Linked DNA regions of Homo sapiens. The protein of the gene in region 3 interacts with the protein of the main gene of each other region in a pairwise test. Each region holds a gene or a part of one and is shown on either strand. Other genes may lie near its edges.

Region 1 (3,500 bases), on a different chromosome or scaffold from region 3:
CCAGATTTATAACTTTAAATACTACCCTTAGTAACTGATGAATCCCCAATTTGTGTTTCCAGCCCTAACCTATTCCCTATATTCCAGGTTCGTATCTACCTATCAGCATCATACCATGGATGTCTTAACAGGCATCTCAAACTTACTATGTCTAAAACAAAATTTGACTTTTCTTCCCCAAACTTGCCCTACCACAAATCTTCTCTATTTTCGGTAAAGGAACCTCAGAGATGCTCAAGCCAAAAAGCTGAAAATCACTCATAAATCCTTAGTCCCACATATCTACTAAATTCTAATCTCCACATAGCAACTATGGCAGTATTTTAAGATTGCTCATTCCATTCCCTACTGAAAACATTCCAACAGTTTTTATTATATTTAAGATTCAGCCCAGATTACTTATCTGGGCCCTTATCTCCTCTGACCCCTTCCACTGCTTTCTTGCTTGAGCACCTCACTGCAGCCATACTGTTACCTTACTTTTCTTCCAGGACCCTGATACATCCTCTTTCCCCTCCCTGGAACATTGTTCCTTCAGCTCTTTACATGGTTCCCTCTAGCTCTTCATTCAGGTCATGGCTCAAATGTTACCACCTCTAAGCGGCCTCTCCTCACTAAATTTACTCCCTATCTATCCCCTAACACCTGCTACATTTTATTGTGTAGCCTTTTTATCACTCACATATTACACTAGTCATCTGTCTCCATCACTAGAAGATATATGAGAACTTTATCTTGTTCATAATTGTATTCATAACCTAAAATAATGCCTGACACACAGCAGGCACTCAAAAAAATTTGTGAAAAAAATTACTGTTGAGTATTTAATGTAATGTGACATAACAAAGTAGACAAAGCAGGTATCAATTTGTGTGGCAGGAGAGTAATACTAGATTAATATGAACCATAGATCCCACAGTTCACAAGAAGCAAAGCAGAAGATTCTAAACGCCAAAGTGGCCGGGCGTGGTGGCTCAAGCCTGTAATCCCAGCACTTTGGGAGGCCAAGGCAGGCAGATCACTTGAGGTCAGGAGTTCGAGACCACCCTGGCCAACATGGTAAAACCCCGTCTCTACTAAAAATACAAAAATTAGCTGGGCATGGTGGTGGCACGTTCTTATAGTCCCAGCTGCTCGGGAGACTGAGGCAGGAGAATCGCTTGAGCCTGGGAGGCAGAAGTTGCAGTGAGTCGAGATCACACCACTGCACTATAGCCTAAGTGACAGAGCAAGACTCCATCTCGGGTGAGGGGAGGAGTGGGGGGGAGGAAGCCCAACACCAAAGTTATGACTATAGAATTCAAAACATCTAATCAGAAGAGAGGGGCCATCTAAAGAACCCAAGTGGATTTCACAAGGAAATCTGCACTTGAGATATTCTTTAGAGTACCCAAAAGGTGAAAGAAGTTATGGGCTGAAGTACAAACCTAAGAATAGCATGAATTTATTTTAAAATACCTGAATCCTAAAAAGCAGATGAAGCTTGTGGAAAATATTATGAAATTTGTACTTTTTGGGGGGACAGTGTCTATTTAAAGCAAGAATAAGTAAGGGATAGGAGCACTAGCTAAGAAAGATACTGTAATGATAGATGACTAAAGGTTTTACTTCAGTTGCCTCCATAAAGGAGAATGATTTTTCACCAGGGAAATGATTTACCTCCTAAAAAAAGGGGTATACCCAAGAAAGTGAGGAATTAGGAAGAAAATGCCAACACTCTTTAAGCAAATTCAATTCTATAGGCTCAGGTTGTTAAGAACAGTATACGTTTCTTAGAAAAGAAAGTAATGGTCAACAGGGGCCAGCTAGCATTTACTAAACTTAAGTTATCCTGAACTGACCTCATTTTCTCATTAAGTAGGGTATTATTAGTAGTTTTAGAGAGCAAACTCTAGAACCACTCATACCCTCTTAGTAATTCTACTTCAGGGAATTGTTATTTATAATAAAGCTTAAGAAAAATATTTTAAAACGGGAGTAAGAGCACATCACAGCTGTTTTAAAACATTAGAATACCGTATGGACATCAAAAACTCCAAATGTGCTGAGGGAAGAAAAAATTTATATACATAAACAAAAAATTTGAGGGATTATGACTAAAACCATGAGAACATTTGCTAGTATTAAGAGAGAATTTTGAGTGATTGAACACATACATGGAATAAGGGTTTGTTTAAAAGTGAAAATCCAAGTTCATAACTGAAAGGAAAGTAATTAATGTAACACAGGTATGGGACGGGAGCAACCTGGATAAATAGTGAACAGAAAAAGATCTAGGTATTATGAAGTGCAGTTAATTGTGTAATGTCTCTGAAGTAGGAGTTGATATAATTAGGCACAATTATTACAAGCATAATGTCTGGAACAAAGGAGGCAGTCCCACAATGCTCTGTGCTGCTCAGTATGTATCTCAAAATACCATGATTAGGCCGGGCACAGTGGCTCATGCCTGTAATCCCAGCACTTTGGGAGTCTGAAGCGGGCAGATCACGAGGTCAGGAGATCGGAGACCATCCTGGCTAATACAGTGAAACCCCGTCACTACTAAAAATACAAAAAATTAGCCGGGCGTGGTGGCTGGCACCTGTAATCCCAGCTACTCGGGAGGCTGAGACAGGGGAATCACTTCTACCTGGGAGGTGGAGCTTGCACTGAGCTGAGATTGTGCCACTGCGCCACTGTACTCCAGACTGGGTGACGGAGTGAGACTCCGTCTCAAAATATAAATAAATAAAAAAGACAAAAAACCATGATTAGTTTAAGCATCACATTAAAGCATTAAATAGTCACTAGCCAACTAGAAAACCCACAGAGGGAGACCAAAGCTATGTCATATGAGAAAAACAATGAAACAATTGTGGATATTCCATCTGAGAAAAAGATAAGGGGAAGACAGGGTAGCTATTTCAAGTAATTGAAGAGCTGTCATTTGGAAGAGGTACTAAAATTATCTTTTGTTGATTCAAAGGGCAGAATTGGATTTTTAGGTAGAAATTAGAGGGAGATGGTCTTTGGGTCAATCTTCTATCAGTATGAACTTTTAAATAATGGAATAGATTTCTATTTGTAGTAAAATTTCCTTCTCTATAAATATTCAGGTATCGGATGATTATCAGACAGGGTTTTAGAAAAAAAATTATTCTTGCTCTAGATGAGATTCATATAGATAATACTATCCAAAGCTCCTACCAATTCCTATGAACTTAAGGTATAAAATTTTTTAAATCAAGTTTATCTGAAAGATTAATTTAGGTGAGCCACTAAAACTTCCTATATATAAATAAAGCATACCTTGGCCCTGGTTTTGGGATTTTGCCAGCCTTGAGCTCATCAATAATTTCTTCAATATCCTTAGCTGTCAAATCCTCCTGGAAAAAAAATTAACAATAGTCATATTTAAATTACTTTCTTTTATATCGATATATTTATAGAGACAAGGTCTCACTATGTTGCCCAGGCTGGTCTCCAACTCCTGGGCTTAAGCAATCCTCCTACCTCAG
Region 2 (3,500 bases), on a different chromosome or scaffold from region 3:
ACCTCCCTTGCTATAGAAGCCCTTCAAGATGCCCCCCCCAATGGTCCTTGCCCTCTGCTCATCACACTTACACGTGGTCACCTCCCACGTTAACATTAACCAACAAAATACTCCATCAGGTAATAAAAGACAATGCAGCTTTTATCCTGATCACTCTCTCTCCTGTCTGGGATCCCTCATTCTGGGGAATGCCAGCAGTCATAGCATAAGCAGCCCTGTGGAAGGTACCCAGGATGAGGAACTAAGGCCTCCAGCCCATAGCCACAGGAGTGAGCTTGGAAGCAGATTCCCCAGACTCAGTCAAGCCTTCAGATAACCGCAACCCTGACCAACAATTTATCTGCAATCTAATGAGACCCGGTGCCAGCACCACCCAACTCAGCCACTCCTGCATTCCTGACCCTCAGAAACTTCAGGATAATAAATCTGTGTTATCTTAAGCCAGTAAGTTTTAGGTAAATTGTTATGCAGCAATAGGTAACAAATATACCACGCAACCAAACTTCAAAAGTCTCTGCCTGATTCTTGTTTTGATAATATGGAAAACATTATCATCTTTCTAAATAAACCAGCCAAGCACAGCCAAACTGAATTACTGCCTGTAGGTCTCACTATTTACACAGAGTGACTGTTCACAACCTGGGGGACACAGCCCCTGGGAGGTGCATGGGTGGGTGTTAGGAGGCTCATCAACTACCTCCAATTGTGTGCAAATGTGTGCTTTTTCTGGAGAGAAGGCCCACAGATTTCCTTACTGAACCCAAAAAGTTTCAGGACTATTGTGATGAAGGGTGGGGCTGTGGGACAGCCTAAAGAGGTCAGATCTTTTCAACCCGGGGAGATGAAGGTTGACGGAGAAGGATCTAAATTTGGAAAGTCACCACGGAACAGCCAGTGACCACAGTGCCAAACCCCAACATGCTAAAAACAGTGGGACCTTGACCTCAAGGCCACTCATCAGTGGATGGTGGTGCTCCCTGGAAACATGCGGCACCATCAGTCAGCCAGCCCCCTGGCCCTCAACCTGGAAATGACTCAGAGAGAAAGTGGAGGGTGCAGGAGAAGGAGGGGCTGCCCACCCTCGTCAGGAAAATTACTGGGAGCCACGAAGCATAGAGTCCCTGATGAACTTCTGTGCTCATCAGAGAGCATGCTGAGCCATCTTCCTACCCGAATCTCAAGCATCTCCAAGTTCAGTTCAAGTTCCCATCCAATGAGACATGTGTCGAGAACCTGTGCCAGGTGCTGGGCTGACAGAGTAAGTAAGAAATCATCCTTGCTGTCCCAAACAGCAAAGGTTGCTGGGGCCCACATAGCTGGACTCCAGTGATATCAGTAAGCACCAAGAGGAAGGGCTGCCCAGGAGAGGTCAAGGAGTCTGAAGGAAGTGACCACTGAACTGAGCCTGCCAGGCCAAGGACAGGCAGTGGGGTACTCCAGGTAAGAGAACAGCGTGTCCCAGGACACGAGGGTGTGAGAAATCCGTGCCTTCTGGGCATGGCCCATTACAGAAACCAGAGTGTGGGGCTAGAGAGGCCAGGTGGCTGGGTCTGTCGTGCCAGAATGGAGGGCTGGCCTGCTGTGCTGACAAGCTGGGCCCTGTCCTGAGGGTGTCAGGAGGGGTGTGACAGCACCCAAGGCCAGTAAACAGCTTGGAAGTGGTTCAGGTGAAAGCTGATGAGGCCTGAGCTAGGCGGGTGCAGTGGGGATGAGGGAAGGATAGGCTGGGGATCTCCTGAGTGGACTCAACAGGACTTGTTTCTGGGGTGTTGAAAATGTTCTAGAATGAATCCCAGCACTTCGGGAGGCCAAGACAGGTGGATCACTTAAGGTCAGGAGTTTGAGAATAGCCTGGCCAACATGGCAAAACCTTGTCTCTACTAAAAATACAAAAATTAGCCGGGCATGGTGGTTCGTGCCTGTAATTGCAGCTACTCAGGAGGGTGAGGCAGGAGAATTGCTTGAATCTGGGAGGTGAAGGTTGCAGTGAGCTGAGATCCAACCACTGCACTCCAGCCTGGGCAACAAGAGTGAGACTCTGTCAAAAAAAAAAAAAAAAGAAAAAGAAAGAATATGTTCTAGAATTAGACAATGGTGATGGTTGCACAACACCGTGAATGTACTAAATGTCATTAATAATAAATGTTATATTATTTGTATTTTACCACAATTTAAAAAAAGACTTTGTTTGATTGGATATGGGGTTGAAAGAATGGAAGATAAACTTCCTGGATTAGATTCCCAGGAGGATGTGTGTGCCACCAAACTAAAATAGAAAATGCCACACGCAGCTGGGTGTGGTGGCTCATATCTGTTATCCCAGCACTTTCGGAGGCCGAGGCAGGAGGATGGCTTCAGCCCAGGAGTTTGAGACCAGCCTGGGCAACAAAATGAGACCCCAGTCTCTACAAAAACAAACAAACAAACAGAAAAAGATAAGGAAGGAAGACAAAGTGATGGTGGTGCAGCTGCGTGTGAGGGGCCAGTAGGAGGACTGGGAGGAGACATCAAAGGTCAGCCTGTGTTAACTGGAGGCTCAGGGCAGAGGCCAGGGCTGGACTGTGAAGGTGGGAGGAGTGTGAACTTAGGGGAGGAGGGGGGAATGTGGAGGTGTTGAGAGGGGAGCTGGTCTCCAGGGAGGATAAGACCAGGAGCCCGCAGAGACCAGGACAGGGTTCAGACTCCAGGAGAAGACAAAGTAAGTCCAAAGTCAGCCATGGGGGAGAAGGAAGAGGGTTTGTTAGAGAGTGAGGAGACAAAGCAGGGAAGAGGATGGAAAAGGTCAAGGAGCGAGGCTTTGGGGCACGATCAAAAGTCAAAGGCAGGAAAGGGGTACAGGGAGCCGAGGGCTGGAAGTGTCCGTTGCATTTGGCATCAGGTGGTCCTTGGTGACCCCTCAGCAAGAGGAGACCCAACAGCCGGAGAAGTGGGGCCTGAGGCCAGGCTGCTGGGAGGCGAGGCGTGTCTGAGAGGTGAGGTGGGTAGGCACAGATTATAAACTAACTTTCAGAGAGGTTCGACTGAGAAAGGAAACTAGAAAGGCCAGATAGGGGGACACCAGATAAACGGTGGGGGTGGGTGTCTGCTTGTGATTTTTCTTTTTCCTAAAAAAAGAGTTCCCATTCACTGAGAGAACAGAGCCAGAAGCAGAAATAGAGATTCTAGAAGTGGTGGTAGGGGAGAGGGACTTGAATGCACGTAGGCGTGGGGTCCTGGGGGTGAGGAAGGGTCTCAGCCTAAGTGCCTGGCTGGCCCCCATCAGCTGAGGAGCAGGGTGCATGTGTCCTCCGAGGCCGGGAGGGAAACCGAGAGGATGGGTGGAGAGGCTGATAAGCCTGCAGCCAGGCCCAGGCGGGAAGTTGAGGGAGTTCCCTCCAGATGACTGTTTTCTAGGTGAAGATGGAGCAGCCGTCACCTCCTGAGGTGAGGCAGCTGCAGTGAGGTGCGGGCTGGAGGGGAACAAAGAGGCCTGAGATGGAAGGAAGGGAAAGGGCCGAGGC
Region 3 (3,500 bases):
AAATAGTTGTGCCCCCTCCCCATCATGCCAAAGGTCTAAAGTTAAAAACAGGCAGAAGACAGACATAACTTGGAAAATCAATTCAACAGTGCACAAAATCCAATACAAATTTCTTAAAACTAGTTTTCAAAGTTCATTTTAGATGCTGCAATTCTCTTAAGTACAGTTAAATAAAATCTTTTTTTTTTTTTTTGACATGAATAACCTGAAAATAACTTCAGGATACTTCTCTTGATTTTAACTCAAAATATGGTGTCAATTTAGATGAGCGGAAAGGGAAACATACATACACAAGAGTCCCACAGTGCCCCAATAATGCAGGGCATTCAACTTAAAGTTCACACACAGGGTAAAATTTATAATGGAAACAGGTTTATAATGACAATGCATATGAAAGTCCTTGTTACCTTAGGGAAAGCCAGGGAAAACAAAAAACAAAAAAATAGAAAACACAAGAGCTTCATGACATGGTAAATAAATTTTTATTTGATGAAAATTACTATTGGTAGGAGAAATGAATGAGGTACTTTTAGGTAGTTAAATAGAAAAACAAATCTAGAAAATACCTGGTAACTTGTGTTGGAACACATTTTCCATGATACGTTTAATTTCCAGCCTCTGTTCCAAGTTCTCATTGTGTAAGCCAAATTCCTGTACCACTTTGTCAATGGCAATGCCAACTGCATTTATCTGGGAGGGTGTTGGTGGGGGTAACGTAGTGAGCAACTCTTCCTCTTGCTTCTCCTTTTAAGATCAAATGTTGAGATTAAAAATGACTTACACATAGTTTTGACCTTCTACCACTCATGAAGACAACACCCTATAGAGTTTTCTTTTTCTTAGCCCTCCCTTCTCATTTTAGCTGTGTTAGTTTTCATCCTATCAAACATATACATACTTCCTTATGCACATAATGTGGATCAGTGGTAACAGAGGATAGGTGGGCATAAGGAGAAAGTGTAAGGAAAGAATATTAAAAACAGCACTTACAAACATTGTTTGCTTTAATACTAGTATAAGGACATATACCTGGGTCCTATCAATGACTTCATATAACCTGATGCTGCCCTTAAGGAAATTCACAAGATTAACCAGTAAAATACATCTGACCAGTATTATGTATTTTGGCTCAAATATATTCAATAAATAAAGCAGTAAAGTTATCAATATCATAGCCTTAAGGAGAAGAAAGCCACAAAGATGACAAGTAATAACAACTAACAAGTAAGCAGACTTGTTTGGGTTACATTCAATTTACCTTAATGTTTTTCTTGTGCCTCTTTTCCTTGATATGCTTATGGGCAAATGCAATGGATTCAATTAAAACATCACAGAGTCTGCAGGTGTACTTTGCTGTAGGGTAGTTTCGTGGTCGCTATAATTTGAAGAGATTTATTTAGAGAGAGACATAAGTAAAACCAAACATTCAGATAAACAAAATCAGCCAGGAAATGATTTCCCCTTCAATTTCTTTTCTCTAAAGAGACAGGAGTCTCACTATGTTGCCCTGGCTGGAGTGAACTGGCTATTCACAGATACCATTATAGCATACTACAGCCCCAAACTCCTGAGTTCAAGCAATCCTCCTGCCTCAACCTCACAAGTAACTGGGGCTACAGGCATGCCACTGTGCCTGGCTTCTTCTTCACTTTTAAAATTGCTACTGTTATTGTTCCCTTTATCACTACCCTAACAGTCATTTTAAGTATAATAGCAATGACTCCTAATCCTATTAAATCACACTGGACATCACTTTTAACTTGTAGTGCTTAAATACTGATAACCAAAGTAGGATATCTAATTGATCAGAGCATGCATACTCAATTAACAACAAAATTGAGGCTAAAACCAGGATTCTAACCAACAAATATATATATAAGGATGTTACCCTTTTTAGCCTGTCAATGCAGTCTCTCTTCAGTCTCTCCTCAGCCTGCTGTAAGCCTAGCAGCTCCTTCGTTGAAAGTACAGACTCATCGATCACAGGGCCTTCCAAGTCTCCATCCTGCTCATTTTCCTCATTTCTAGTCTTCCGTGGCTTCCTAGGTCTGGACCTCTGCTTCTTGTTTTCTTAAGGTGGGGGAAAAATATTATTGGCAATATTAAATAATGCCACTCCTGAGTAAAAAGCAGACCTTACATATGTATTAAATCATGTGAGAGAATAAATCACATCTGCATGCAGAGCAGAAGGAAAGGTAGCTGTCCTATGGACAAAATGCTTTAATACTGTATTCAGTGAGCACATCACCTGTAGACATTAAGCCATAGAAATCATCTTTTTGGAAAATTTAAAAGAATTCTACTTCAATCATACAATTTGATTTTTATTATCTCTTCCTGGTATACTGCTGAGCATAGCAAAGCAACAGAAAAATTATACTCTGAAGGCAAGTATATCTATAATTCTATTATATTAAAATATTACAATACATATTGTAAATATATCTTACATATTCTATAATATCTGTAAGTACACCTGTTATTCTCATTAAAACCAGCCACATTTGCTTTCATCTTCTATAAGTGAACAATCTCAATAAGGCAAAATGCAAAATGTACCCCTGGACAACTCAGAAATCAACTATATACTCATCTGGAGTGAAAAATCATCATTTAGTTGCAAATTTAGCCATCAATAACACCTAAGCCGGGTCCCTCCGTTAATATGAAGAAGTCCAAGCCAAAATTTTATTTACTAAGGACAACTATCTCTCATTTTACCTTTACCTTCATTTTAGCTTCTTTGAATGGCCTGTACACTGAGCATATTTCAAAGGAAAAAAACAACTGGCCATTGAAACAAAAGTTTTCTCTAAGTACATTTGTTTATAAACTCTGCTATTAGTTCTATAATCCTTATAATGAATAAAAATCATCCTGTTCCTTTTTAAAACTTATAACTTTTCAACTTGTTAAAGTGATTGTGGGATTAAACCATAAAAAATTGTTTTAGATAGCTTTGATAACTTATATCGAGTTTTAAAAAATGAAACTATTAGTAACACATTAGTGCTTGGAAACATAAACCTACTGAAAAGCCCTACATGAAGTAATTCCTCCATCAAGTTTTCAGAGGAACTCATTACTACTAGTATGGCAATTACAATGAACTGGCAGGCTGAAAAGGAAATATAGGACCTCCAATTTTATAAAAAGCTTGCTGAGAGCGCTAAAGGATAAGCAGCAAGCATTGTGCTAAAACTACCTGAGATGACTATCTCAAAATTCTGCAAACACCTTCCACAATATAAGAAAATTAAAAAATTAAAAAAAATTAAAGTGTTGGAAAAGTAGTTTTAAAAAATCAATCAAAATACACTGAACAAATAAAATACTAAAAGGTAAGTTGTCATTTCAACAGAAAATCAGGCTACCTTGCGCTACCTTAATATTTCCTTTTTAATACTCCCCCGACTCCCAATTAAATTATCATAATCTTTTAAGGCCAGTATTTCTGGTCTGAACAATTTTTTTTTTTCAGATAAGCACTTCTTTTA
Region 4 (3,500 bases), on a different chromosome or scaffold from region 3:
TGACCTCAGGTGATCCGCCCGCCTCGCCCTCCCAAAGAGCTGGGATTACAGGCATGAGCCACCACCACACCCAGCCTGATTTACATTTTTACAAGCACCCTGGCTACCACGTGGAACGTGGTCTGGGCAAGAGAGAGGGAGGGAGGCCCACGTGGGGGCTGTTGCTTTCATCCGGCGACATAGGAGGGTGGCTTGAACCCAGGCGGTCGCAGTGGGGATGGAGGGATGTTGAATATCTTGGGATGTGGAATTCTGAGACTGAGCCAGCAGAATCTGGCAACGAGGAACAGGAGGGAGAGGAAGAAGCACGGCTGGCTTCCGTGTATTTGTCCTGAACAACTGGGTGTTTTGCCACGTCTTTCTCTGAGTTGTGGGAGAGGGAAAGAGAAACAGGCCGGGTGTAGGCAGGGGAGCATCTGACATTTTGCTTTAGCCACGATGAGTTGGAGATGCCGGGGAGATGTCCCAGCAGGGAGGCCAGGGAGGACTCTGGAGCTCAGAGGAGAGGTCAGGGCTGGAGGTTAAAATGAAGGCATCGTCAGCAAACAGGTGTATTTAAAGCCATGGGACTAGATGAGATCATCCAAAAAGCTGGCATAGTTGGAGGAGCTGGAGGGCCCAGGACAAAAACCCTGGGCGCTGATCCTCACTAGTCAGATTCACGACAGCTGCCACTTGTTTGATGCTAACTACCAATCAGGTGCTGAGTGAAACCATGTACACACCTTTCCTGGAATGCCCACCACAAGGGACTCTTGGCACCATTTTGCAAATGAGGAAACTGAGGTGCAGGGAAATAGCAAGTGACAATCCCTGGGGTGGTTCCCCTGACCCCAAGGAGACCTTGGATGACTCTCACCACCATCATTCATTCCTTTGATGTACATTGACTAAGAGCACCTGCTAAGTGCCACATTCGAGTTGGGCAGTGGAGATTCAGCAATGGATGGGACACACACGTCATCCCTGCCCTCGGGAGCACAAGGACAGAAAGGTGCAGACAAGCAAAGTGAGGGCTGGGCATGGTGGCTCACGCCTGTAATCCCAGCACTTTGGGAGGCCGAGGTGGGTGGATTACCTGAGTTCGAGACCAGCTTGGCCAACATGGCTCAACCCTGTCTCTACTGAAAATACAAAAAATTAGCCAGGCGTGGTGGTGGGCTTCTGTAATTCCAGCAACTTGGGAGGCTAAGGCAGGAGAATTGCTTGAACGTGGGAGGCGGAGGTTGCAGTGAGCCGAGATCGCGCCACTGCACTCCAGCCTGAACCACAGAGCGAGACTCTGTCTAAAAAAAAAAAAAGGAAAGAAAGAAGCAGCAAATTGGGCTGGCCGTGGTGGCTCATGCCTGTAATCCCAGCACTTTGGGAGGCCGAGGCGGGTGGATCACTCGAGCCCAGGAGTACAAAGCTGCAGTGAGCTGTGATCTACAGAACACCACTGCAGATCCAGCCTGGGTGACAGAGCGAGACCCTGTCTCAAAAAAACAAACAAACAAAAGAAGCAAACCCTTCAAAACCCCATATAATTACAAATTATGAAGGAAAAGAATACGGGTACCTACTTTAGATGGAGGAGGGTCAGGAAGGACTTTCTAATGAGATAAAATCCAAGCGGAGGCATGAAGATGGGAAAAGGAATGTTCAGGGCAGAGGAAAGGCTGTGATAACACCCCTGAGGTGAGAACCGTCTTGAGTATTCTCAGAAAATAAAATTTCCCGTTCACTGGGGGGCAGAAGGTGCTGGGAGATAAGGTTGGAAAGTGACTACAGCCAGATCACACAGGGGCTCCAGTGCCAAGTGGAGGAGCCCAGGCTTTATTCTTAGGACAATGGGGAGCCATGGGTGATGTCTGAGCAAGGGAGTGACTCTCTGTTTCAGGAATATGTATCAAACACCTATCCTGTGCCAGGTGCTGATCAACGCACTGGAGATACTATATCTGAATAGAACAAAAATCCCCATCTTGACATCCTAGAGCTGCACTGTCTAATATGGTAGCCATCAGCCACATATAGCAAATTACATTGAAATTAATGAAATGGAAAATCCACAAGCCACATTTCAAGTACTCAGCAGCCACCTGTAGCTTGTGGTTCCCCCAGCCACCTCTGGACAGTGCAGATCGAGATCATGGCATCGTAGCATTTAGTGGACAGCATTGCTCTGCAAGGAGGAGAAATAACACAATGAGTAAATATTTAACAATAAATATATAGCAGGTCGGATGATTGTGATAGGTTCTCTGGTGGAACAGAAAGCAGGGGAGGGAGATAGGAATTGCCTACTAACAGGTATTTGTATTTTAATTGGGCAACTAAGGAAGGCTTCCCTGAGAGGCGACATTTAAAGGAAGTGAGGGAGTGAGCTATGCAGATACTTGGAGGACAGACTTGCTGGCAGAGGGAACAGCAGTGCAAAGGCCCTGAGGTGGGAAGATCACTATTGTGTTCAAGGCAAGACAGGGAAGCCAGCGTTTGGCTGGAGCAGAGGGAGAGAAGGGGAGAGTGGGAGGAGAAGATGTCTGTGAGATGATGGGGCAGTGCTTGCAAGGCCTGGTGTGCCACGTTGAGAACTTTGGCTTTGATTCTGAGTGAGATGGGAGTCATAGGAGGGGCTGAGCAGAGGAGGCACAGGACCAACTTACATTGTTAAAATATCTCTGGTTGCTTTGTGGAGGATGGACTGTGGGGGACCAGAGACAGAGCAGGGAGCCCAGTGAGGAGGCTACTGCTCTAGTTCAGGTAGGAAGTGAAAAGGCAGCTCAAACCAAGATGGTAGCCGTGGGAAAGGTGAGATGTGGCCAGATTCTGGATATGCTTCAGAGAGGCAAAAGGAATTCTGGACAGCTTGGATGTAGGGCATGAAATAAAGAGAGTGAAGAATAGCCCCCAAGATTATTCTGAAAGGATGGAATTGCCATTTACCCAGCTGGGGAAGACTGTGGGAGGAGCAGGCCAGCGATTCATGACTTCCCAGCCCTCTCTGAAGCCTCAACTGCAGCCCAAGGGCTCCAGGTGAGACCCAGCCCTCTTCCTTCCCAGGAATCTTCAGGTCTTCCTGGGGAAGCATAACCTTCGGCAAAGGGAGAGTTCCCAGGAGCAGAGTTCTGTTGTCCGGGCTGTGATCCACCCTGACTATGATGCCGCCAGCCATGACCAGGACATCATGCTGTTGCGCCTGGCACGCCCAGCCAAACTCTCTGAACTCATCCAGCCCCTTCCCCTGGAGAGGGACTGCTCAGCCAACACCACCAGCTGCCACATCCTGGGCTGGGGCAAGACAGCAGATGGTCAGTAGTGGGAGGCTGGTGGGGAGCAGGCTACTGGCTACTTGGGGAAGTGTGCCAAAGGATGGGGAGTGGGAAAATTGGTGAGGGGCCATGGGAAGATGGGCTAATGGTGAGGACCAATGGGACAGGGTTTCAATGGGAGAAAGGTCAAGGGGGAGGGAGAGTGAATTTGGGAGCTGGGCCAGTGAGTGAACAGCCAATGGAAAATGT

What was found. The genes of interacting proteins can lie anywhere in the genome.
Region 1: the proteins of TUT7 (region 3) and NDUFV2 interact in binary tests that used the Homo sapiens proteins (3 or more experiments, as listed by UniProt).
Region 2: the proteins of TUT7 (region 3) and PECAM1 interact in binary tests that used the Homo sapiens proteins (3 or more experiments, as listed by UniProt).
Region 4: the proteins of TUT7 (region 3) and KLK6 interact in binary tests that used the Homo sapiens proteins (3 or more experiments, as listed by UniProt).

Annotation. Positions count from the first base shown.
Region 1 is NC_000018.10:9,126,699-9,130,198, reverse strand, and holds part of NDUFV2 (NADH dehydrogenase [ubiquinone] flavoprotein 2, mitochondrial precursor), read right to left. Parts: intron 3,369-3,500; coding exon 3,292-3,368; intron 1-3,291.
Region 2 is NC_000017.11:64,384,361-64,387,860, forward strand, and holds part of PECAM1 (platelet endothelial cell adhesion molecule precursor), read right to left. Parts: intron 1-3,500. UniProt on the Homo sapiens protein: Cell adhesion molecule which is required for leukocyte transendothelial migration (TEM) under most inflammatory conditions.
Region 3 is NC_000009.12:86,344,411-86,347,910, forward strand, and holds part of TUT7 (terminal uridylyltransferase 7), read right to left. Parts: intron 2,071-3,500; coding exon 1,889-2,070; intron 1,376-1,888; coding exon 1,259-1,375; intron 745-1,258; coding exon 567-744; intron 1-566. UniProt on the Homo sapiens protein: Uridylyltransferase that mediates the terminal uridylation of mRNAs with short (less than 25 nucleotides) poly(A) tails, hence facilitating global mRNA decay. Essential for both oocyte maturation and fertility.
Region 4 is NC_000019.10:50,963,092-50,966,591, reverse strand, and holds part of KLK6 (kallikrein-6 isoform A preproprotein), read left to right. Parts: intron 1-2,081; exon of another isoform or gene 2,082-2,164; intron 2,165-2,925; exon of another isoform or gene 2,926-3,036; intron 3,037-3,042; coding exon 3,043-3,290; intron 3,291-3,500. UniProt on the Homo sapiens protein: Serine protease which exhibits a preference for Arg over Lys in the substrate P1 position and for Ser or Pro in the P2 position.